Linked DNA regions of Homo sapiens. The protein of the gene in region 5 purifies or fractionates together with the protein of the main gene of each other region. This does not show direct contact. Each region holds a gene or a part of one and is shown on either strand. Other genes may lie near its edges. The genes, in order: HEATR3, G3BP2, XPO5, TNPO1, CA9, HADHA and IPO7.

Region 1 (3,500 bases), on a different chromosome or scaffold from region 5:
GTCTGGGAAAGGTTTCTGCACATTGGATGACAAACAATATACATTTACAAAATCCAAATTCCTGCCCCTTCAAAATTCTGTTCCGTCTGCGTAGTCTTTCGCAATAAAGTCTAAATACCTGGTTGAGAAAAAAGCAGCTGTGACAGATGCTGTGCAAGCGTCTGAAGGGCTGCGGCTCCTCCCAGGTGCTCCACATCCAGGAGGGACACAAGACTCTGGAGACAGAAGAGGGCTCTGCACTGAATAGTGTTCATTCTGGAAAGGAAGTGAAACAATGCCATCTGATTCTCCAGAAGTTGCCCATCAGAATTCAGTATTAACTTTTAGCCTAAGCTTCACGTTCTGACTGGAAATATCTGTAAATACAAGGTATCTATGGCAGTTAGCAAAGAATCACAAGGTGAACTGTTTTTTGTGTTTTCTAAAATTTATCATCATTTTTTAGACAGGGTCTTACTCTGTTGCCCAGGCTGGAGTGCAGTGGTGTGATCACAGCTCGCTGTAGCCTCAACCTCCTGAGCACAAGTGATCCTCCTGCCTCAGCCTCCTAAGGAGCAGGATTACATGTGCATGCAACCACACCTGGCTAAGTTTTTTATTTTTTGTAGATAGGGGTCTTGCTATGTTGCCCAGGCTGCTCTGGAACTCTTGGCCTCAAACAATCCTCCTGCCTGTACCTTCCAAAGTGCTAGAATTATAAGGTGAACTGTTAATCTGCCAAATCAAACTGCTTGAATATTCACGGCCTCTGATACACAACTCATTCATGAGTCATGAGGAATATGTTTTAGAAAAATTTCTATGTAGGGTAGCATCCTTAAAATTATAATTTTCTTCAGACAGGGTCTCATTCTGTTTCCCAGGCTGGAGTACAGTGTCACCATCATAGCTCACTACAGCCTTAGACTGCTGAGCTCAAGCAATCCTCCCACTTCAGCCTCCTAAGTAGCTAGGACTACAGCTGAGTGCCACTATGCCAGGCTAATTTTTGTATTTTTTTTTCCTTTGTAGAGATGGGGTCTTGCTATGCTGCCCAGGCTGGTTTCAAACTCCTGGCCTCAAGTGATCCTCCTACCTTGGCCTCCCAGAGTCCTGGGATTATAGGTGTGAGCCACCATGCCCAGCCTAAAATTATTTTTAATTGTGAAATGTGACATATATACAGTTAAGTACACAACATACATAGAGAGTTTAACAAACAGTCTATGAAACCAAAACCCATGCACCTGGGAAAGAAATTAACACTGCTGGACCCTGAAAGCCCCTGTATCTCTTCCATATAATATCCCACCTCCCTGACACCTACAGGTAAGCACCATACAGACTTCTATGGTAAACATTTCCTTGCCTCTTTTTTTTTTTAATAGGTTTATCACCAAGGTATGCATCCCTGAACAAAATAGTTCAATGTTGCCTGTTTCTCAACTTTGTAAAAACTGAATCACAGTGTGTGTATTCTTTTATGTCTCGCTTTTTTGGTTCAACAATGTAAGTTCCATCCGAGTTGTGAGTAGCTCTAATTCAGATCCCTTTTACTGCTGCATGTATTGTACTGCGTGATTTTGTCAAAATTTATTTACCATTCTAACTCTGATGGACAACACGTTTGTTTATGGGTTGGGGCAACTGTGACACACACTGCTATGAACACTCTCATATACATGTATTCTAGGGCATGTGGGCACATATTTTTCTGGTATATATACCCAGGAACAAAACTTCTGGGTCCTAGGGGGAGTCAGCACCTTCTATTTAATAGCCCATCATTTCATAAAATAAAATAATGACAAATGTTTTTGAAAGCAGAAGAGTTCTTACTTTCTAATCAAAGGTTTCCAAGTAGGGTTCCTAGAACATAGGTCAACTGCAATGCTGTTTGGAAAGGCAGTTTTCTCAAAAATCTAGATTTAAAAGAGGCAGTAAAGCAAAGGTTAAAGAGTAGTCATTTAACACGATTCCCTTACATAATTCCAACATATTACTCCTAAGTGAAATGGTTAGGCTTCATATAGAATGACCTTTTCGCCTATTTCCAGTACTGTTAGGCTCAGCTTTGTCTCAGATCTTACCACCATCTACAACCTGGAAGTGTGAGCTTGCTTCTTTTGTACACAAAATGAATACCTTGCTTAAGCCTTTCCCATGCTCCACGGTAAGCCTAGAATGAAAATGGATTACCTTCTTTGGGATGAGGTAGTTGGTGAGAGCCGTGTGAACTTCATGGGAGAGGCAGAGGGGAGAAAACAGCTGTCCCCCGCACTCACTGAAGGAATTCTCCATAAATGCGTCACTTTCATCACTGCTAGAAAGCTCTTCCCATTCGTCATCAGAGGGATCTGGGAAGCGGGCAAACCACGCAGAACTGGAATAGTTAAGAAAATCTCCACGGGAGTTTCCCTCTTGGCTCAGGGGGAAAATGTCTAAATGTAAATGTTAACAAACCTTCATTGCAGCACATGTTGACAATAATTTCCAGAGCAGTCTGTTGGGCTGTCAGCAATGCTATAGTCTCTCTCAGTTCCTTGTCAGTGGGCTTAAAAAAAAAAAAAAAAGTAAATGACCAACTCTCAATGGTTGGGAAAATGTTTTTGGGGAATTTCCTTAGTGAAAGCCTACTAGAAGATTTTTGCGCTTGGAATAGAGCACACGGGGAATGGGGTAGGTAAAAGAAAAGTCATGAAGTGCCAGAAGTACAAACGAGCATTATAATTCCTCTTGGTACAGTGGAGCATGCCCCCGTTAACTGGGTTTCCATCTATCTGCATGGCTATTCCCCAAGCGTCACTTAGTTAGCTGGAGAGAACAGACAAATATTCAGGAATTCTGAACAGAATTCACCCTGAAACTTATCTACTGTGTCAAGAAGTAGCTGGGCATACTAAGATTTAAACAAGAGTTCATTTCAGACACCAGGCACTTAGAAACACCAAACCTGCTTTTAGATGCTTAGCTTAGATGTCTTTCTTGGAATGGCTGCGCTAACACACACTACTAACGAGCCCTTATGTGACCTGTAGAACTTGCTATGGAGCAGACAGACTTGCTTCCTGCCTTTCTGTAAAGACTATAATAAAGCATTTCTCTAAGACTAAAGAAAGAAGGAAGCTTTTTTTTTCTCTGAAAATATATAACGCCAACTTAAACTTAACATTATCAACCAACATTTCTTAAAATGGGTAATATAAATTTATATAACCTTAATTATCAAATTGTCTATGGAAAGTGAAATAACCATACTGATATTCCAAAACAGTACATGAGCTAAAAATAATGTATATTTTACTATTTGAATATTTCCAAACTTCAGTTTTCAATTGTCTTTTTTTTTCCCCCTTAGAGACAGAGTCTCACTCTGTTGCCTAGGCTGGAGTGCAGTGGCACGTTCATAGCTCACTGCAGCCTCAAATTCCTGGACTCAAGCAATCCTCTTGCCGCAGCCTCTGAGTAGCTAGGGCTACAGGTGCATGCCACCATGCCTGGCTAATTTTTTTAATTTTTGT
Region 2 (3,500 bases), on a different chromosome or scaffold from region 5:
CCTTACTGGATCTCGATTTCCTAGTTTACAAATTGAGAAGAAATCCCCGGTCAAGCCTACAAGACTATACAGTTCTACAAAGATAGCCAAGAAGGCCTGGTGCAGTGGCTCACACCTGTAATCCCAATATTTTGGGAGGCCAAAGTGGGTGAATCGCTTGAGCTCAGGTGTTTGAGACCAGCCCAGGCAACATGGCAAAACCCCGTCTCTACTAAAAAATACAAAAAATTAGCGGGGCGTGGTAGTGTGCAAGCGTAGCTCCAGCTACTCGGGAAGCTGAGGTGGGAGGAATGCCTGAGCCCGGGAAGTCAAGGCTGCAGCGAGCCAAGATGGCACCACCGCACTCAAACCTGGGTAACAGGAGTGAGACACTGTTTAAAAAAAAAAAAAAAAAGATAGCCAAGATTAAAGGATACTTATACACAAAAAGAAATCTTTAGAAAGTTCTTAGATTAGCACCTTCAAAGATAACTACCATCTTCAATAAGGTGGTTGTTAGCCTCACCTAACAACCTTTTTAGAAAAAGTTAAATACAATATATCACACTCCACTTCTTCCAATGACACCTGAAAATGTGAAGAATCTCACACAGGAATGCACAGTGTAAAATTTTATCTGATACATTAGCTCTATACACAGTCAAAGCTCTCTCATGAACAAATCCGTCTTTTACTTGTCAAATGAAAACATTATCCAAGGCCAGGCGCAGTGGCTCATGCCTACTTCCCAGCACTTTGGGAGGCAATGGCAGGAGGATCACAAGGTCAGGAGATCGAGACCATCCTGGCTAACACAGTGAAAGCCCGTCTCTACTAAAAATACAAAAAATTAGCCAGGCCTGGTGGTACGCGCCTATAGTCCCAGCTACTCAGGAGGCTAAGGCAGCAGAATTGCTTGAACTCAGAGGCAAAGGTTGCAGTAAGCTGAGATCACACCCTTGCACTTCAGCCTGGGCAACAAGAGCGAAACTCTGTCTCAAAAAACAAAAAACCGAAAACATTATCCAGTATAGTTTAGAGGCTTTTTACTCTCCAACTCTGCCTATCGCACCTAAAATCCCAGTGAATCTTCATCAGAATATTTTATTCATTCCTGTTTCTTAAAATGTTTCCTCTGCATTTGCCTAATTCCTGAAGCACATGCACTTCAGCTCTCACGGAAAATTGCTCTATATTTGTCACCATATTTTCTGAATCTATTAATTATACACATTGAGAGAGAGTGGAGTATTGGTAGATAATACACACTGAGAGGGAGTGGAGCATTGGTAGACATACATGCAGATTAGAAAAGAAAGTCACATTGAGCTTCATTATCCTACAATGAACTTATATTTCCTCAGTTTCAAAATAACGTAAAAACCAAAGTTATCACTCTCCTTTCCTCAAACTTTGACTAAAACGTCACCTTTTAGGTAAGAAACATTTAGGTTTTTTGTTTACCATTTAAAGTTCAGTGAATCACTACTATAATGGGGCTGCCTCCAAAACAATCAATCTTAGGCTACATTAATTTAGATGTAATATCTAAAATGAGTTGATTGCTAATTGAATATAGTGAATGGAAATTATAAGAAGGTAGATTTGGGTGAAACATAACACAAGAATAACGCGAGTTGTCCAAATATCAAATAGAGCTACTTAACAAGTAGCCAGTCACTACAGGTATTCCAGAGACTAACTGAATGGTTTGGCACAAACATAGTAGAGTCCATACATCCAAAAAAGTAAGATTAGGCCATTCCAACACTAAGATCCTAAAAGTCTGTTAACAAGAAGCAGGACTTTTGACTTCTCCTCCAATACTCATCTCACACCTTCCTATCTGCAATGATTGAAACCCTATGCATTTATCTGGGCCCAGCAGAAATCCTGTCCCCTTGAAAATCTTTCTACTCCTACTGAATTCCTCAACAGAATATAACTCTTCTCTATTAACTCTTAAAGCACTTTTGGCCTTTATCATAGCAGTTTATTGATCATGCTCTGCCCTAAATTACTAACTGTACACCTGTCTTCATCTTCTATTCCCCTCTCAAATATTATAACTCAGCTCTCCTTTGAATGCAATTCTCTGGAAACATCACAATTCTTCTCAATAATCGAATGACTTCTCAATCCTCCACCCATCTGCATTATCAATGTTGACTACCTCCTCCTAACTCTTCTAGAGTTCTATAAGGCAAATTTTCCTTCTCATCCAAACGCAGAATTTCTCAAGGTTCTGTCTTCTAACCTGGCAATTTCAGCTTCTGGTCTCATGTCTACCTAAACGTGTATCTAGTCTATACCATAAGTTCAAATTTTACATTTGTCACCACATACTGAACACCTAGACATGACCCACATATGTCCCAATACACGCATGCACCAAAGAAAGCTATTTCCTTATTTCTGTTAAAAGTGTCATAATCTTCTCAACTTGAAAGCTCAGTCGTGACTTTCTCCCCTTTAGCTTTGCCACTTAAACTGTGAAATCCTTACAATTCAGAAGGTGGAATTTGTGCCCTCCTTTTCACTCCCACTGTTCAGACCTTTTATTCTTCAAAAGTCTTTCAAGCCCCTGTATCACGTGTAGTATATACTGTACTGAGTAAAATCCAAACACCTGCATTCAGTTTGGCATCTAAGGCCCTACACAGAAATCCAGTCTGACATTCAATGTCATAACCAACCTTTCAAATTTATCTCCTACTATACTTTCTCATCCCTGTATCAAATTCTATACAAATATTTTAATCACCTAATATTATTCTCTGCAATTTCACTCTCTGCGCCTTTGTCTTACTTCATTCATTCCCATCCACAAGCTGAGTCAATGGGTTATACAAAATAAATTCATTTCAACATTTATTTTATGGCTACTATGTATGTACCAGAAACTACAAAAGGAAAAAGAGGCCGGGTGCAGTGGCTCACGCCTGTAATTCTAGCACTTCGGGAGGCCGAGATGGGTGGATCACCTGAGGTCAGGAGTTCGAGACCAGCCTGACCAACATGGCAAAACCCATCTCTACTAAAAACACAAAAAAGTTAGCCGTGTGCAGTGGCGGGCGCCTGTAATCCCAGCTACTCAGGAGGCTGAAGCAGGAGAATCGCTTGAACCCGGGGGCGGAGGTTGCAGTGAGCTGAGTTGTAAGTACTTGGTATTAGTTATTATAAAAAGAATAAGACCTCTAGTAATAGGAGGCAGTTCTCTTTACCAGATACTGTTACCAAAGGTTATGTGGGTGCTAAGACACAGCTTATCTCCACTATAGGATACTTACCCCTTTCCCCTCTGGAGTCCCTCACTCATAGCTGGGCTCAAACTAGTCAGGTTTATTTATTTTAATTGAACCATGGACTATATCCATTTCCAACAGCTAAATGCATATTAATACTGGAACTTTCTGAAATTCCAGATGGTTTTTGTTTGAAGTAACTTAAACAATCTAAGGAACACTATACCTTTTTAAAGAAATGACCTTCAATCTTTTGTGGTACACCATTGAATGAAA
Region 3 (3,500 bases), on a different chromosome or scaffold from region 5:
CCTTTGCATTAGTCAGGCCTTCATGGAGTTGGCTGAGCGACCAGCTCTTCTTCCAGGAAAATCCTCTATAGCCCCAGTTTCGACATGCCACTTACTGATTAGGTCCATGACTTCTCGGGTTAACATCCTCACCAGTTGCTCCTCCAGCATCTCTTGAGACTCTGGGTTTTCATCTGCAGCCTCATCTTCTCCACTGCAGAAAACCAGGGGGCCAAGTTCCACAGGAGTGCAGAAAAGGAAGGACAAGGAAAGCAGCGACCCTAATCAGACTCTCTCTGACCACTTTCTTCTCCTTTGGGTCTTCGTTTTATGCAAAAGTTGGGAATGGACAGCAGTGATCCACTGAAGGACATTATTACTAGTGACTCTGTCCAGTTGGATAGACATTACAGAATTAAAATAAGTGAGTAAGGTAACAGTAGCCCCTATGAAGGCTGGATCTCAGAGTCTGCCTGCTGGTAACAGCCTGTCCAGACAAGCCATGTATCACCTAGGCTGAGAATGACTACAACCTACTGCTCTTCTACCCTGGGACAGCAGAATCCCTGCCCGCTTCCTTTTCCCACCCCAAACCTGGCTGCCAGTTCATCCACCAAGAAGAGTGGGTAGGTATCCCTTACCACAGCAGGCTCCTTTGGTTGATAACTTGCCATTTCTGAGAAAGCCTCTGGGAAAACACAAAGGAAATAAATGCTAGAATTGGGGAAAGGATTGGAACACATAATATCTAAAGTCAAGTCCACTTCATGATTAAAATTAGCCAAGGATGATTCTAGGCATCAATGACAACTTCTGTAGACTCCACACCACAAGGTTAAAAAAAACATCTATGGTTTCTGTAACCTATCCCACATCCCTGATGAAGGTGGTATCTCAAACACCTCTTTGCTTGGAAAGAATTAACAACATTTTTAGAATTCCTGGGTCTCTAGACATACCTGTTCTCCACCCAGCTGGTCCCCCTGCTTAATTCTAGAGTAAGGATAACAGACCCAGCATTCCTGGCAAGGGTCTGTGAGCAAGCATTCCTCTTTTTACCTCTCCTCAGTTAACAGGAGGTTAGGAGCAGAATCTGCAACTGAAGCTGTCTTGTGGCAATTAAATCAGTTTAGTTCTTTGGGGGCTGCTCGATCCTACAGCAAGGATAGTCAGCTGGGGTAGAAGCTCTGCCCAGCCAGTCTGGCAGGGCTAGTAGACAACACTTCTAGGAGCTCCTGACTTGCAAAGCTCAGAAATGGCCAGAGGCCTTAATAGTACTCTTTGCTTCCTGTTCCTGACTTATCTCTTACCATATGGAGGTAGGTGAAAAGAGGTCCGAGGATGGGGGATACCAGGGCTTCATAGTGCTCTGGGGGACAGAAGAGCACCAGAGGCTTTACAAAGACACGTGCTGCAACAAGTTAAGAAATTTTAGTGCATAGGCACACATCTCTCACCTGCCAGGTGGTGGGTTGCACCCCTGGGCAGAATCAATCCCTAAAGGATTTGCCAGATGTCAAAAATATCCTGTGTTAACAGTGAAAAAATCTTAAAGTTCTTTTCCTAAAATCCTAAATGGCACTGATATTGAATTCCATTATACTCTTAGTTTAGCTGCATTTCCGTCAGGCTGCACATTATGGTCACTGGCCCAAAAAGTAGGAATAAAAAAATAGGAAGGAGGACATCCTTGTAACAAACTCTCCTTCACCATTCTCCTTATAATTTCAGGTAAGAAAGATTTGCTGGCTGCGGTGGCTCACACCTGTAATCCCAGCACTTTGGGAGGCCAAGGCGAGTGGATCACGGGGTCAAGAGAGCGAGACCATCCTGGCTAACATGGTGAAACCCCGTCTCTACTAAAAAAAAAAAAAAAAAAAAAAAAAATTAGTCGGGCATGGGGGCGAGCGCCTGTAGTCCCAGCTACTCGAGAAGCTAAGGCAAGAGAATGGTGTGAACCTGGGAGGCGAAGCTTGCAGTGAGCCGAGATCACGCCACTGCACTCCAGCCTGGGCAACAGAGCAAGACTCCGTCTCAAAAAAAAAAAAAAAGAAAAGAAAGAAAGAGATTCAACTATTAATAAGGGTCTGAATGAGAATGAAGTGTTAAAACTGCTGCTTCTGGCTGGGTGTGGTGGCTCAGGCCTGTAATTCTAGCACTTTGGAGGCTGAGGCAGGAGAATTACTTGAGCCAGGAGTTTGAGACCACCCTGGGGAACATAATACAGACCCATCTCTACAAATAATAATAAAAACTAGCTGGGTGTGGTGGTGCGCATCTGTGGTCCAGTCCAGGCTCTTCAGGAAGCTGAGGTGGGAGGATCACTTGAGCCTGCACTGAGCTTTGATGGCACCACTGCATTCCTGCCTGGGTAACACTGAGACCCTGTCTCAAAAAAAAAAAAAAAAAAGTGCTTCTAAAAATACAGAAAAGGGATAAAAGTTTTATCTTTCACAGCTGGGCATGGTGGCTCACACCTGTAACCCCAGCACTTTGGGAGGCTGAGGCAGGCGGATTACTTGAGGTCAGGAGTTTGAGACCAGCCTGGCCAACATGGCGAAAACCTGTCTCTACTAAAAATACAAAAAAATTAGCTGGGCGTAGTAGCATGCGCCTGTAATCCCAGCTACTTGGGAGGCTGAGGCACATGAATCACTTGAACCCAGGAGGTGGAAGTTGCAGTAAGACAAGATCATGCCACTGCACTCCAGCCTGGGCAATAGAGCAAAACTCTGTCTCAAAAAATAGGAATAAAAATCAGCTGGGCGTGATGGTGCACACCTGTAATCACAGCTAGTTAGGAGGCTGAGGCACAAGAATAGCTTGAACCTGAGAGGCAGAAGCTGTGAGCCGAGATCATACCACTGCACTCCAGCCTGTGCAACAGAGTGAGCAAGACTGTCTCAAAAAAAAAAAAAAGTTTTATCTGTAATAATTCCGAGAAGGGGGAAGGTAAAAATTTACCCCTAAGGAAAAGTTTATGGCCATCTGGACTGCCTTCATGTTTTCCCTGCAATCTGCCAGTGTTTTTAATGACATGATACACTTAGATACATAATCTCATCTCTTCCTTCCAGTTCTGCCTCTTCCCTCTGGTTGCTGTGACCTGTTTTGTTTCTCTCTCTAATTTTCTGACCTTTTGGGTTATGTAGAGACTTTTGAAAGGATATGAAGCATGGGTCTGAGTCGGTAGTCAGGAATATTGTTCAAGTTGACAAAGGCTGAGCTGAGAAGCTGGGTAGCAAGGTCCTCCACAGTATAGAAGTCTTGCTGCATGGAAGGGCCTGCCTTCCCTAGGATATGAAAACTGTAAAGGGGAAAAAAAGAGCATTGAAAATGACAAATCCAACATCTGTTACTGCCAGCCCTGTCCCATGAATTTCATTTCTAGCCTACAATAAGGTTTTTCAGCCAGAAGAGCAGTTGTATTTACTTAAGAGAACTTATAGATACAGCATCTTTTTAAAGACAGATGTTGGTGGCCGAGATCAGCAGTAGCTTTCATTACTATTTAATGTGGA
Region 4 (3,500 bases), on a different chromosome or scaffold from region 5:
TAACTTTCCTCCCACTGTTTCTAGAGGTGGGAAAGATATCTGTCATGAGTCTTCTTACTTCTTTCAGACTATGCTTCCTCCTTTCTCCCTATAATCTTCAGTTTTGAATTATGTCATAAAGGCCCACTGTCCCACTCTCCAGTCTTTATATTGAAATTGATAAGAATGTACATAACTGATCCACCCAAACCCTGGCCTCTCACTTCCTAGACCTCTCTTCCAGTGCTCTTCCCATCTATGCTATATCAGCCACTCATTCCACAGTGATACCCTCGTGCACTGTCAATAACTGCAGTCCCTCCATAGTTGCCATTTCATGTGTTCTGCTCTGTTACCGCTTCTTCCTATTTTTGCAGCTCACTCCTAGTGCCTCAGCCCTAACCATCTTCTGACCCCAATGGAATCTCCAACCCATTGATCCTATTACTGCTCCCCTGCCCCTTACCCTCTTGATGTTTTCACTCCCTTTTATGTGGAATTTACTCATCTAAATTTCATGATTAATCAGTTTAATTACTTCTTTGGATCCCTTTCCTTGCTCTTTGCTTGTTTGGCAAAACCAGAGCTCTAGTTAAAACAAACTCTGGGGTTTTTTTTGCACTTGCCCCTATGTAACTGAGCATGGCCAGAAAAAAAACCACACAACCACACATGGCCACAAACCTTAAGTGGGTCTGTAATGCTGCCTGATGGTTGTACTGTATTTTCCTAGTCTGCTTACTCTTCCACTCCTCTAAATGACTATTTCATATCTTATTTTCCCCAAACCTTCTATATCTCTTTTCCCATCCTCACCTTCAGCTCATGACCTTGCTTCCCACTTTGCTGAGAAAATTGAAGTAATCAGAACTTCCATAGATTGCCACCACTCCACATACCTCTGGCACTCTATTTATGAAAGGGTCTGCGCAGCATCTGCTCAGTACATGGCTGTCTTCCTGCCTGTTACCTTAGATTAACTGTTCATATTCTTGTCTGCCTTTGTACTAGGCCCCATTCTCTCTCATCTGCTCAAGGACTTTGCTTCAGGTTCTCTTCTTCCACATCATCAATTTTGTTCTTTTTATTGAATCATTTCTATCAGCAAACAGATATGCTATTATTTCTCCCCTCTTAGGAAAAAATCTTGTCCCACTTCACCACATTACCCCAATTTTTTGTTTCCTTTGGGAGCAGTATTTCTCAAAATAGTTGTCTGTACTTGCTATTGCCAAGTTCTCTCCTCTAGTACTCTGTTAAACCCACTCTAGTGAGGTCTTTGTCTGCACCACTCCCACAGAAACAGCTCCTCTGGTTCTTCAGTAGCCCCCATATTGTTAAATGCCCTGTGTTATTGATTCTCATCCTATGTGACCTGTCAGCAGCATTTGACACAGCTGTTTGCTTCCCTTAGCCTTGAAACCATTTCTTCTTTGCCTTCGAGGACGTCACACGTTCCTGGTTATCTGCTGTCTCAGTGCTGGTCCTTGTAATTCTCCTTTTCCTTTATTTTCACTGACCTCTTAATGTTGGAGAGCCCCAAGTCTTAATTGTTTGTTTATTTGTTTCTATCTATGCTCACTTTATTGGTAATCTCATTTAGTCTCATGGCTTGAAATACCATGTAAATATCAACAATACCCAAATTTAGATCTTTAGCCCCCTCCTCAATTCCAGTCTTACATGTGCAACTACCTATTCAACATCTCCCCTAAATGTTTAATAATAGACATCAAAGTCAGCATATCCAAAACTAAACTCCTAAACTTTCTCCCCAATGCCTGCTTTACCCACAGACTCTCCCATTTCTGTCAGTGGCAACTCCGTCCTCCTGTAGCTCAGACCAAAATCTTGGCCTTATTTTTTTACTTCACTTTTTCTTTTACTCTTCAGATCTGTTCTTTCAGGACAATCTGTTTTCTGTATCGTCAAAATACATCGAAAATCCTATCATGCCTCACTGCTTCCTCCACTGCCACCACCCTTGTCCAAGCCACTACCATCACATCTTGTTGGATTACTGAAATAGGTTACTACCTGGTCTGCCCCTTCTGCCCTATCCCCTTCCAACAGTATTTTCTCAATACAGTAGCCAGAATAAACCTTTCGCAAATTAAGACAGTCCCTGTCACTTCTCCTGCAATGGCTCCTGTTACGATCTGAATGTATGTGTCCTCCCAAACTGTTGAAATCCTAACTCCCAAGGTATTAGGAAATGGGAGTGGAGTCCTCATGAATAGGATTGGTGCCCTTAAAAAGTCCTAGAGGCCAGGTGCGGTGGCTTATGTCCGTAATCCCAGCACTTTGGGAGGCTGAGGTGGGCGGATCATGAGGTCAGGAGATCGAGACCATCCTGGCTAAAACCGTGAAACCCTGTCTCTACTAAAAATACAAAAAATTAGCCGGGCGTGGTGGCACGTGCCTGTAGTCCCAGCTACTCGGGAGGCTGAGGCAGGAGAATCGCTTGAACCCAGGAGGCGGAAGTTGCAGTGAGCTGAGGTCACGCCACTGCACTCCAGCCTGGGTGACAGGGTGAGACTCTGTCTCAAAACAAAACAAAACTCTAGAGAGATCCCTTGCCCTTTGTCTCTTGAGGACACAGCAAGAAGTCTGTGAGCTAGAAAGCAGCCCTCACCAGATACTGAATATGCCTTGCTCTTGGACTTCCCATCCTACAGAATGGTAAGCAATCAATTTCTGTCATTTATAAGCTATCTCATTTATGGTATTTTGTTATAGCAACCCGAATGGACTAAGACATTCCCTTTCATTCACTCAGAGAAAAGCTGGTCCTGTGAGGCTCTACATGATCTGCCCAATCCACTCCACTTTCTCCTTACCTTCCTGACCTCATTTACTGTTACCACTGTTCTCCCCTTACTCACTGGCCTGCTTGCTATGTCTGTCCTGTTCCTACTTTAGGACTCTTGCTGGCTCCACTCTCTGAAATGTACTTCTTCCACATATCTGCTTGGCTCAATGGACTTACCTCCCAGTCTTTGCTCAGATCTTACCATCTATGAATACCCTGTTTAATACTATATTCTATCCTGCCCTTCCCCACCCACTCTTATCCTGGACTCCTTTTTATTTTTTGCATAGCACATACAACCTTCTAACATACTATATTAGGGGTCAGCAAGCCACAGCTCCATGAGCTTCTGCCCTGTTTTTGTACATCCTATAAGCAAAAGAATGGTTTTTACATTTTTAAACGGTTATGAAACAAAGCAAAAAATACGTGACATATATATGTGGCCTGCAAAGCCTAAAATATTTACTCTCTGTCCCTTTTCAAAAAAAGTTTACACTATGTATTTTATTCTGTTTATTGTCCTCCTCCTCCTGCAAGAATACAAGCTCCAAGAGGGCAAGATCTTTGTTTTATTTTTTGCTGTATCTGCAAGATACAGATACAGAGCCTAGAATGTAGTAGACACTTAGTAAGTATTTGTTAAATGAATTGTTCGTGATGGTGCAAAATGGTAATTATGTTAAATGTTCACCAATAGACCTATATA
Region 5 (2,366 bases):
CCCTGGGCACAGGGCGGTGTAGTCAGAGACCCCTCATATTGGAAGTAGCGGCTGAAGTCAGAGGGCAGGAGTGCAGATATGTCCAGTCCTGGGACCTGAGTCTCTGAGCCTGTGAAGAGGATCTATGTTGGGGTCTCATCTACATTGCACCCCCTTAAAGCTTCAGGGTATAGGGATACAGTTTCACCTCCCAGAAGCCAAGGTAACTCAACTCTGAGACCACTTCTTCGCTAAGTGCAGGCCCTTCCCATAAGACGTAACTCAAAAAAAAGTACAGGGCTTTGGAGCAACTGGAAGAGGCCTGAGGAAGCAAGAGAGGAAGAAAGAAAGGAAGGAGAGAAGGGAAGGTGGGAGGGAAGGGAGGAAGGAAGAGAAGGAAAGAAGAAAGACCGTCTGAGTCTACACTCTTAACTCTGTGTACCATCATAAAGTGCTGGGCCACAAGTTTAAGCCCAGAGCAAATTAAAAAGAAAAAATGAATCCCAGCACTTTGGGAGGCCGAGGCTGGTGGATCACAAGGTCAGGAGTTTGAGAGCAGCCTGGCCAATATGGTGAAACCCTGTCTCTACTAAAGATGTAAAAAAAAAAAAAAAGAAAAGAAAAGAAAAAATGATCTGAATAACTTGTAAATAAATATGAATATTGATAACTATACAAAACAGACACAAGAAATGCAAAGGCAGAGTTCTACCTAGTCTAGCAGAAACCTAAAAGGTCTAGTAGAGTAAGTGAGATTTAAAATGACCCAAGAGTGACTAAGAAGAGAACGATTTCCAACAAAAGTATTTACAAAGTTAAAATATTTGATGCTTATTAAAGATAAACAGTTCTCAGAAAAAGTTTAGCTCTCCAGACTTGACCTTGACAATTCCAAACACCATTTTTTGGTCTTGTTTTTTTTGTCTCATTTTGGTTTTTGCTTGGTTTTCTTTTTTTTTTTTTTTTTTGAGACAAGAGTCTCGCTCTGTTGCCCAGGCTGGAGTGCAGTGGCACGATCTCGGCTCACTGCAACTTCTGCCTCCCGGGTTCATGCCATTCTCCTGCCTCAGCCTCCCGAGTAGCTGGGATTACAGGCACCCGCCACCACGCCTGGCTATTTTTTCGTATTTTTAGTAGAGATGGGGTTTCACCATGTTGGCCAGGATGGTCTTGATCTCTTGACCTCGTGATCCACCTGCCTTGGCCTCCCAAAGTGCTGGGATTACAGGCGTGAGCCACCGTGCCCGGCGGTTTTTGCTTGGTTTTCAATCTGTAGGCAGCCGTTTGCGGGTAACTGTGTCTGTCAGCTTCATGGTTATTATCAAGATGAGCGCTGGCTCATGCTTCAATCCCTCCTGCACTGGAGGGAGCCCATCTCCAGCCTCAGACCTGAAGCTCCAAAGGGTGATTCTTTATGAACTAGGCCACAGAGATTAGTGGCCAGACCAACAAACTGACCTTCCTCAGCGATTTCTTCCAAGCGAGACAGCAACTGCTCATAGGCACTGTTTTCTTCCGGGCCCTCCTGGGGGATGACATTGTAAGACAGATGAGTGCATGTATCCAGGGCCATGGCTGAAGGCCGGAACATGAAGGGGGGTTCCCATAGACCTCTCCCATTCCTCAGCTCTGAGAATGCTGAGGGAACATAAAATTGTAATGGTTGTTGCTTTTTGTTGTTGCTGTTGTTTTTTTTTTTAGAGACAGTGTCTCCCTCTTAAAATCCTATGTATTATTTCAAACTCTATGTACTCTTGCTGTGCGAACCAACAAGCTTGGTGGACTGGTTTTCAATGACAAGCTGGAGAGAGAGGGAGAGAGCCCACTTTACTTAGGATACTAGGCTCTCAGTGACCCGTGCCCTTCTGACGTTTGCAGTCTCACTCACTGCTGCCTCCGTACATACTCCCCACAGGAAACCATATATACACCTTTGTGTTGGTGTCACCTCTGCATTCACCTTCATGATTCTGTGTTTGGCTTTTCAGGTGAGGTCCTGACATGCCACTTCTTTTATTTATTATTCTTTTTTCTTATTTTGCTTATGAACCTAATGTTAAGAACATTATGAACCTAAGAGTATGAACATATTGACATGCTATGATGGAGGCATTTCTCTGAACTTTGTGCTGTGTGGCTGGCATTAAAGAATCAGTGAGTGTGGCTGGGCACGGTGGCTCACACTTGTAATCAGCACTTTGGTAGGCTGAGTCAGGCGGATCACTTGAGGCCAGGAGTTTGAGACCAGCCTGACCAACATGGTGAAACCCTGTCTACTAAAAATACAAAAAAAAATTAGCTGGGCATGGTGGCACACACCTGTAACCCCAGCTACTCAGGAAGCTGAGGCAGGAGAATCCCTTGAACCCGGGAGGCGGAAGTTGCAG
Region 6 (3,500 bases), on a different chromosome or scaffold from region 5:
GATTCTGACCAAAAAAATGATGTGTGCTAGATAGCAGCAGTGCCCTGAAACTAGCATGCAAGCATCCCAAACAGCATTCCATACCATCACCAAAGTAAGAAATTGTTGCTCTAAAATAGTTTCCTCCCCCAGTCTCTCTTGAATAGTGTCCTGGGTTCCCCTTTTCGTCTTAGAAACATCAGGTTCTGGCGAGTGCCGCTCACCACACTGCTGACTTGGGACAATAGTTCCTGTCCTCTCTTGGGAATAGTTTAATCAGGCATTAGAATTAGAGCAACTGATAATGTTTTGAATGCTGACAAGTATCTTGTTTGCTGACTGCTGTCATGATTGTCAAAAACAAAAGCTTTGAGCCCATACTTTTAAGACCTTATTTGATGTTTTTGTTTCTTTTGAGACAGTCTCACTCTATTACCGAGGCTAGAGCACAATGGTGCAATCTTGGCTCACTGCAACCTCTGCCTCCCGGGTTCAAGCGATTCTCATGCCTCAGCCTCACGAATAGCTGAGACTACAGGCATGCGCCACCATGCACAGCTGATTTTTGTTTTTCTTATAGAGACGGGATTTCACCATGTTGGTTAGGCTTGTCTTGAACTCCTGGCCTCAAGTGATCCGCCTGCTGCAGCCTCCCAAAGTGCTGGGATTACAGATGTGAGCCACCATGCCCAGCCCTTAAGACCTTCTTTGAATACTCCTTTGTATTTATCTTGTGGCCTTAATTTTGCTTTTGGTTAAGGAAATTAGTGAATGGGGTTTAGCTTCATTCTTCATTTAGAGGAAAACTGTAGGTAATTTATTCTGAAAGTGTGGTCAGACGGAATCTAAGAGAACCTGTTTCCCTTGGCGACGAAAAATAATCAGTTGAATGTCTGAATAACAGGAATCCTTTTCTGCTCCCTATGGGAAAAAAGAAACCTTGAGTTAATATTTTATGTAATCAGTGCAATGTGCTACTAGGTAATGAGTGGGAAGTAGATGGAGAATATAGGAAATAATGCTTGGTCTCTGTTCTTTAGAAGATTACAACCACAGGCTGGGCGCGGTGGCTCACGCCTATAATCCCAACACTTTGGGAGGCTGAGGCGGATGGAACACGAGGTCAGGAGTTCAAGACCAGCCTGGCCAAGATGGTGAAACCCCATCTCTACTAAAAAAAAAAAAAAAAAAATTAGCCAGGCGTGGTGGTGGGCGCCTGTAATCCCAGCTACTCAGGAGGCTGAGGCAGAGAATTGCTTGAACCCAGGAGACAAGAGGTTGCAGTGAGCTGAGATCACGCCACTGCACTCCAGCCTGGGCAACAGAGCGAGACTCCGTCTCAAAAAATAAATAAAAAAAAAAAAAGATTACAACTACAGAATAACATAAAATTATATATTTGCGATAAGCAAATATAAACCATGTGGTCTCAGACACACTTTGGCTGCTTCCCCTGTCATAGGTAGAGAATTACCAGAACTCCTCTTTTGTTTTGCCATTCTAGTATTCATGTTATTTACTCCTCTTGGCAAATTTAACTGGTTTAAGAGTGATTTAGTTTACGTAAATTGGGCATTTGGAGGCATTCTATGGTAGAAAGAATGTGTACTTGGGAGTTAACATGTCTTTGAATGCTAGCACCCTCCCTTATCAAGCTATTTGACCACAGGTCCCTCTAAGACTAAACAACTTGAAAGTCTCCCTCAAAATGGGAGTAATAGAATAACTACCTCACAGAGTTGGTGAAAAACACAGGTGTGCTCTGGCCCATGGACATTCAATAAACGTTAGTTTCCTTTTCTTCCCATCTAACTAGGAATGTGTTTTTTCTAGATTGAATGACAAAGTGAAGAAGAAAGCTCTAACATCATTTGAAAGGGATTCCATCTTCAGCAACTTGACTGGGCAGCTTGATTACCAAGGTTTTGAAAAGGCCGACATGGTGATTGAAGCTGTGTTTGAGGACCTTAGTCTTAAGCACAGAGTGCTAAAGGAAGTAGAAGCGGTAAGCAAGGGGCTGTTGTACTTGAATCCTAGTGTAGTGAACAGAAAACACAGAGATTTTTTTTTTAAAGGAGCTATAGGAAACTCATGATTGCTTTTATAAAAAGGACTATTCAAAGGCTGGGCATGGTGGCTCACGCCTATAATCCCAGTAGTTTGGGAGGCTGAGGTGGGCGGATCACGAGGTAAGGAGTTCGAGACCAGACTGGCCGATATGATGAAACCCCATCTCTACTAGAAAATACAAAAATTAGCCGGGCATGGTGGCACACACCTGTAGTCCCAGCTATTTGGGAGGCTGAAGCAGGAGAATCACTGGAACCTGGGAGGCAGAGGTTGCAGTGAGCCGAGATCACGCCACTGCACTCCAGTCTGGGTGACAGAGCGAGACTCCATCTCCAAAAAAAAAAAAAAGACTTTTTGTTATCAAACGTTAAGTTTTTATGTGTGCTCATGCACACTGCATATGTTATAAAGGTCAAATCTAAATTCTAAAGGAAGAAAATGAGGGTGCGTTCACCTTATTCATGTAGGAGCTCTGTCACCCAAACATACAGATAACCTCACAGAGTATAGCCAGATGCTTTGAGATTTTTTGGTTAGCCGAAAGCCAAAAACAAACCTCTTCAGGTCTAAGGCTGCAAAGGAAATAGGGAAGACAGTTCGTCCAGATGCTTGTTCTGTGGAAATGCTGCTTTGGCCCAGCTCCCAAATGTTCTCCATAGGCACTTCTTGAGATGGGCTGACATGAACAAAACAAGTACTTGAAGTGGGGAGTAGGAAGAGTAAGCCCCGAGAAGGAGTAATAGCAGTAATTCAGGGATGAGGTAGGACCAAGGCCTAAGCTAGTCTACAGTTGGATAAACAGAATGTGGGTTACTGAAAGGTGAACATGAAATGATTCTGACTTGGCAACATGCTGGATATAATGAGCAGTGAGCTCATTACAAAAAATAAGAGTACCACAGAGCAAAACTCCGTCTCAAAATAAATAAATAAACAAACAAACAAACATTATCTTCTCTTATTGCCCATAGAGCTAACAAAACCCATTCCTTGGACAATCTTCCACAGGCATGATCTCTAGACCACCCCGTTTCGGTTGTCCTCTCTAGTATCTTCCTCATGTCTCCGTGTTCTACTGCTGTGTTTACAACTATCTTTTCACAATTCTGCAATCTGGGCAGGGCTCTGCAGAGACAGTGGTGCTTAAGTCCATTGATTTCAAGGCTGGGGTCACTCCTGGGCTGCATTCCGCAGGAAGCTCGGTTGGGGCACCTCACTGCTTCCCCCACATCTCTCATAGTCCATCCTCACTTAGTCGTCTCACCACAACTTCTTTGTAGCGTGGCTGCAGGCTTCCAAGAGAACAAAAGCAGAAGCTACTGAGCTTCCTAAGTTTATTGTCAGGAAGAAAAAAAGATAAATAATTTAAAAAATAAAAAAAGAGGCTACCGGGCCCCACAGGTCTAGGTAGGCCTGGAACTGGCAGGGTAACTTCTGCTGCATTGTGTTGA
Region 7 (3,500 bases), on a different chromosome or scaffold from region 5:
CTGGATTACAGGCGTGAGCCACCGCATCTGACCTCCAACTAGGAACTTTAAAAAAAAACTTTTTTATTAGAAATCATTTAGCAGCCGGGCGCTGTGATTCATGCCTGTAATCCCAACACTTTGGGAGGCAGAGGCGGGTGGATCACCTGAGGTCAGGAGTTCAAGACCAGCCTGGCCAACAAGGTGAAACCCCATCTCTACCAAAAATACAAAAATTAGCCAGGAGTGGTGGCGGGCGCCTGCAGTCCCAGCTACTCGGGAGGCTGAGGCAGGAGAATTGCTTGAACCCAGAAGGCAGAGGTTGCAGTGAACCAAGACTGCGCCACTGCATTCCAGCCTGGGTGACAGAGCGAGGCTCTGGCTAAAAAAAAAAATTTTTTTTGTATGTTGCCCAGGCTGGTCTCAAACTCCTGGACGAGCGATCCTCTTCCTGCTTTTACCTCCCAAAGTGCTGGGATTACAGGCGTGAGCCACTGCGCCCAAACTCTTTCAGATCTTTAACAAGCTATATCATTGAATAACTTGCTATCTAACAGCCGAAGTATCCAGGGACTTTCCTTCTCCCAAATTCAGAACAGTACTTCAAAATATTCCTGGTGAAGGAATGTTATCTAAACTACAGGCTACTCTGGTCTTCCTAAAATATTTTGCTTAATTTCTAAACATTCCAAATTATCTTACAAATATGCCATTATTTTACACTTTTCCAGACCTAAGATTTTCATTAAATACTTTTAATAAAATGGAATCAAATGAACCATTTATAAGTAAGGTATATCACATACAGCAGTAATAGTTAACCTTTTGTGACAATCCCAAAAGTGATCCAGGGTAGTGTGAGTTAAAAAAAAAAAAACACACACACACACAAAATATCAAGAAACTTACCAAAAGCAAGATCACTTTTTCATATAAAGCAAGTGAGAAAGTAGCACTGCTGCCTGTACATATAAAACCATTAGGCCGGGCACGGTGGCTCAGGCCTGTAATCCCAGCACTTTGGGAGGCCAAGACGGACGGATCACCTGAGGTCAGGAGTTCGAGACCAGCCTGGCCAACATGGCGAAACCCCGTCTCTACTAAAAATATAAAATTAGGCCAGGCGCAGTGGCTCACGCCTGTAATCCCAAGACTTTGGGAGGCTGAGGTGGGCAATCACCTGCAGTGAGGAGTTCAAGACCAGGCTGGCCAACATGGTGAAACCCCGTCTCTACTAAAAACACAAAAATTAGCCGTGTGTGGTGGTGCATTCCTTTAATCCCAGCTACTCGGGAGGCTGAGGCAGAATTGCCTGAACCCGGGAGATGGAGGTTGCAGTGAGCCGGATGGCACCAATGCACTCTAGCCTGGGCAAAAAGAGCGAAACTCCACTCAAAAAAAAAAAAAGGTGTATATACATATATAACCATTATATACCATATTGAGCTTAGGAACTAAGAGTTTAAATGTCTCCTGGGTAAACCCTCTAATTCCACTTACAGCATTTTTCTTGACTGCGAATATAACAGGGGAAAGACTATTGATGCGGAGATCATATCCACCTTAGCCAAAATCAGATCTAATAGTTTCGTCATCCAAAACTTACATGTAGCTTTATTATAGTACTGACCACATGTATTGTATGGGCCAGTGACGTGGTGATTATGGAGCTCTAGAAAGGCAGTGATCATAAATTTCTCTGCATCTAACTACTTAGCTCAGTGCCTAGCACACAGACATTTGCTGTTACATGAACCAGACTGGGAATTATCCTTCGGAATGAGTATTTAATAAAAATCTTCCTGGCATTATATTTAAAAACACCGGCTGGTGTGGTGGCTCATGCCTGTAATCTCAGCACTTTGGGAGGCCAAGGTGAGTGGATCACTTAAGGTCAGGAGTTCGAGACCAGCCTGGGCAATGTGGCGAAACCCCGTCTCTACTAAAAATACAAAAATTGGCCAGATGTGGTGGCACCTGTAGTCTCAGTTACTCAAGAGGCTGAGGACTGAGAATCGCTTGAACCTGGGATTGGAGGCTACAGTGAGCCAAGATCATGCCACCGCACTCTAGCCTGGGCAACCGAGTGAGAACCTGCCACAAAAATACTAATAATAATAATAATAAATTTTAAAAAATAAATAAAAGAGCTAAAGCCTATACTGTTATTTATTAATATTATAACAGGAAGTCAGTCATAAAGCCTATTACTGGGAAATCAAGGAATAACAATAACAAAAAATAACAATTCATGACCTCAAGAAACTTAAAATTATAGTGGGGAGAAGAAAAGTTAAGTAAAATTAGGCCAGGCGTGGTAGCACGTGTCTGCAGTCCCAGCCACCTGGGAGGCTCAGATGGGAGGACGCTGCTTGAGGCCAAGAGTTCTAGGCTGTAGTGTACTATGTAGTGCAGTGGAGCCCACTGCACTCCAGCCTGGGTAACATAGCAAGGCCTTAGCTCTGAAAAAATTAAAAATAAGCCTGGGCAACACGGTGAAACCTTGTCTCTACAAAAAATACAAAAATTAATTGGGCATAGTGGCACATCCCCGTAGTCTCAGCTACCTGGGAGGCTGAAGTGGGAGTGTTGCTTGAGCCCGAGAGGGAGAGGCTGCAGTGAGCCATGATGGTGCCACTGCACTCCAGCCTGGGTGATGGAGCAAGACCCTGTCTCAAAAAATAAATATAAATAAATAGGCTGGGCATGGTGGCTCATTCCTGTAATCCCAGCACTTTGGGAGGCCGAGGTGGGCGGATCACAAGGTCAGGAGTTGGAGACCAGCCTGGCCAACATGGTAAAACCCCATCTCTGCTAAAAATACAGAATTAGCCAGGTGTGGTGGCAAACGCCTGTAATCCCAGCTACTTGGGAGGCTGAGGCAGGAGAATTGCTTGAACCCAGGAGGCAGAAGTTGCGGTGGGCTCATATTGCGCCACTGCACTCCAGCCTGGGCAACAAGAGCAAGACTCCGTCTCAAAAAAAAAAAAATTTATTTATTTATTTATTTTTATTTTTATTTTTTGAGACGCAGTTTCGCTCTTGTTGCTCAGGCTGGAGTGCAATGGTACGATCTCGGCTCACCGCAACCTCCACCTCCCGGGTTCAAGCGATTCTCCTGCCTCAGCCTCCCTAGTAGCTGGGATTACAGGCATGCGCCACCACGCCCAGCTAATTTTGTATTTTTAGTAGAGACGGGGTTTCTCCATGTTGGTCAGGCTGGTCTCGAACTCCCAACCTCAGGTGATCCGCCCGCCTCGGACTCCCAAAGTGCTGGAATTCCAGGCATGAGCCACCATGCCCAGCCAATGTTTTAAATTTAATTAATTAATTAATTTTTTTGAGATGGAGTCTCACTCTGTTGCCCAGGCTGGAGTGCAGTGGCACGATCTCAGCTCACCGCAACCTCCGCCTCCCAGGTTCAAGCGATTCTTCTGCCTCAGCCTCCTGAGTAGCTGGGATTACAAGCATGCGCCACCGCGCCCAGCTAATTTTGTATTCTTAGTAGAGATGGGGTTTCT

Evidence for each region.
Region 1: the proteins of CA9 (region 5) and HEATR3 purify together in Homo sapiens (affinity purification with mass spectrometry, with the first as the bait; one study listed by BioGRID). This does not show direct contact.
Region 2: the proteins of CA9 (region 5) and G3BP2 purify together in Homo sapiens (affinity purification with mass spectrometry, with the first as the bait; one study listed by BioGRID). This does not show direct contact.
Region 3: the proteins of CA9 (region 5) and XPO5 purify together in Homo sapiens (affinity purification with mass spectrometry, with the first as the bait; one study listed by BioGRID). This does not show direct contact.
Region 4: the proteins of CA9 (region 5) and TNPO1 purify together in Homo sapiens (affinity purification with western blotting; one study listed by BioGRID). This does not show direct contact.
Region 6: the proteins of CA9 (region 5) and HADHA purify together in Homo sapiens (affinity purification with mass spectrometry, with the first as the bait; one study listed by BioGRID). This does not show direct contact.
Region 7: the proteins of CA9 (region 5) and IPO7 purify together in Homo sapiens (affinity purification with mass spectrometry, with the first as the bait; one study listed by BioGRID). This does not show direct contact.

The regions. Positions count from the first base shown.
Region 1 is NC_000016.10:50,082,970-50,086,469, reverse strand, and holds part of HEATR3 (HEAT repeat-containing protein 3), read right to left. Parts: intron 2,534-3,500; coding exon 2,443-2,533; intron 2,363-2,442; exon of another isoform or gene 2,337-2,362; coding exon 2,179-2,336; intron 1,902-2,178; coding exon 1,819-1,901; intron 256-1,818; coding exon 119-255; intron 1-118. UniProt on the Homo sapiens protein: Plays a role in ribosome biogenesis and in nuclear import of the 60S ribosomal protein L5/large ribosomal subunit protein uL18 (RPL5). Required for proper erythrocyte maturation.
Region 2 is NC_000004.12:75,666,912-75,670,411, forward strand, and holds part of G3BP2 (ras GTPase-activating protein-binding protein 2), read right to left. Parts: intron 1-3,500.
Region 3 is NC_000006.12:43,527,539-43,531,038, forward strand, and holds part of XPO5 (exportin-5), read right to left. Parts: intron 3,287-3,500; coding exon 3,150-3,286; intron 1,839-3,149; exon of another isoform or gene 1,818-1,838; coding exon of another isoform or gene 1,711-1,817; intron 1,388-1,710; coding exon 1,290-1,387; intron 668-1,289; coding exon 621-667; intron 194-620; coding exon 96-193; intron 1-95. UniProt on the Homo sapiens protein: Mediates the nuclear export of proteins bearing a double-stranded RNA binding domain (dsRBD) and double-stranded RNAs (cargos). XPO5 in the nucleus binds cooperatively to the RNA and to the GTPase Ran in its active GTP-bound form.
Region 4 is NC_000005.10:72,823,161-72,826,660, forward strand, and holds part of TNPO1 (transportin-1), read left to right. Parts: intron 1-3,500. UniProt on the Homo sapiens protein: Functions in nuclear protein import as nuclear transport receptor. Serves as receptor for nuclear localization signals (NLS) in cargo substrates.
Region 5 is NC_000009.12:35,676,928-35,679,293, reverse strand, and holds part of CA9 (carbonic anhydrase 9 precursor), read right to left. Parts: intron 1,618-2,366; coding exon of another isoform or gene 1,603-1,617; exon of another isoform or gene 1,505-1,602; coding exon 1,438-1,504; intron 110-1,437; coding exon 1-109. UniProt on the Homo sapiens protein: Catalyzes the interconversion between carbon dioxide and water and the dissociated ions of carbonic acid (i.e. bicarbonate and hydrogen ions).
Region 6 is NC_000002.12:26,199,633-26,203,132, reverse strand, and holds part of HADHA (trifunctional enzyme subunit alpha, mitochondrial precursor), read left to right. Parts: exon of another isoform or gene 1-813; coding exon of another isoform or gene 814-900; intron 901-1,812; coding exon 1,813-1,984; intron 1,985-3,500. UniProt on the Homo sapiens protein: Mitochondrial trifunctional enzyme catalyzes the last three of the four reactions of the mitochondrial beta-oxidation pathway.
Region 7 is NC_000011.10:9,387,652-9,391,151, reverse strand, and holds part of IPO7 (importin-7), read right to left. Parts: intron 1-3,500. UniProt on the Homo sapiens protein: Functions in nuclear protein import, either by acting as autonomous nuclear transport receptor or as an adapter-like protein in association with the importin-beta subunit KPNB1.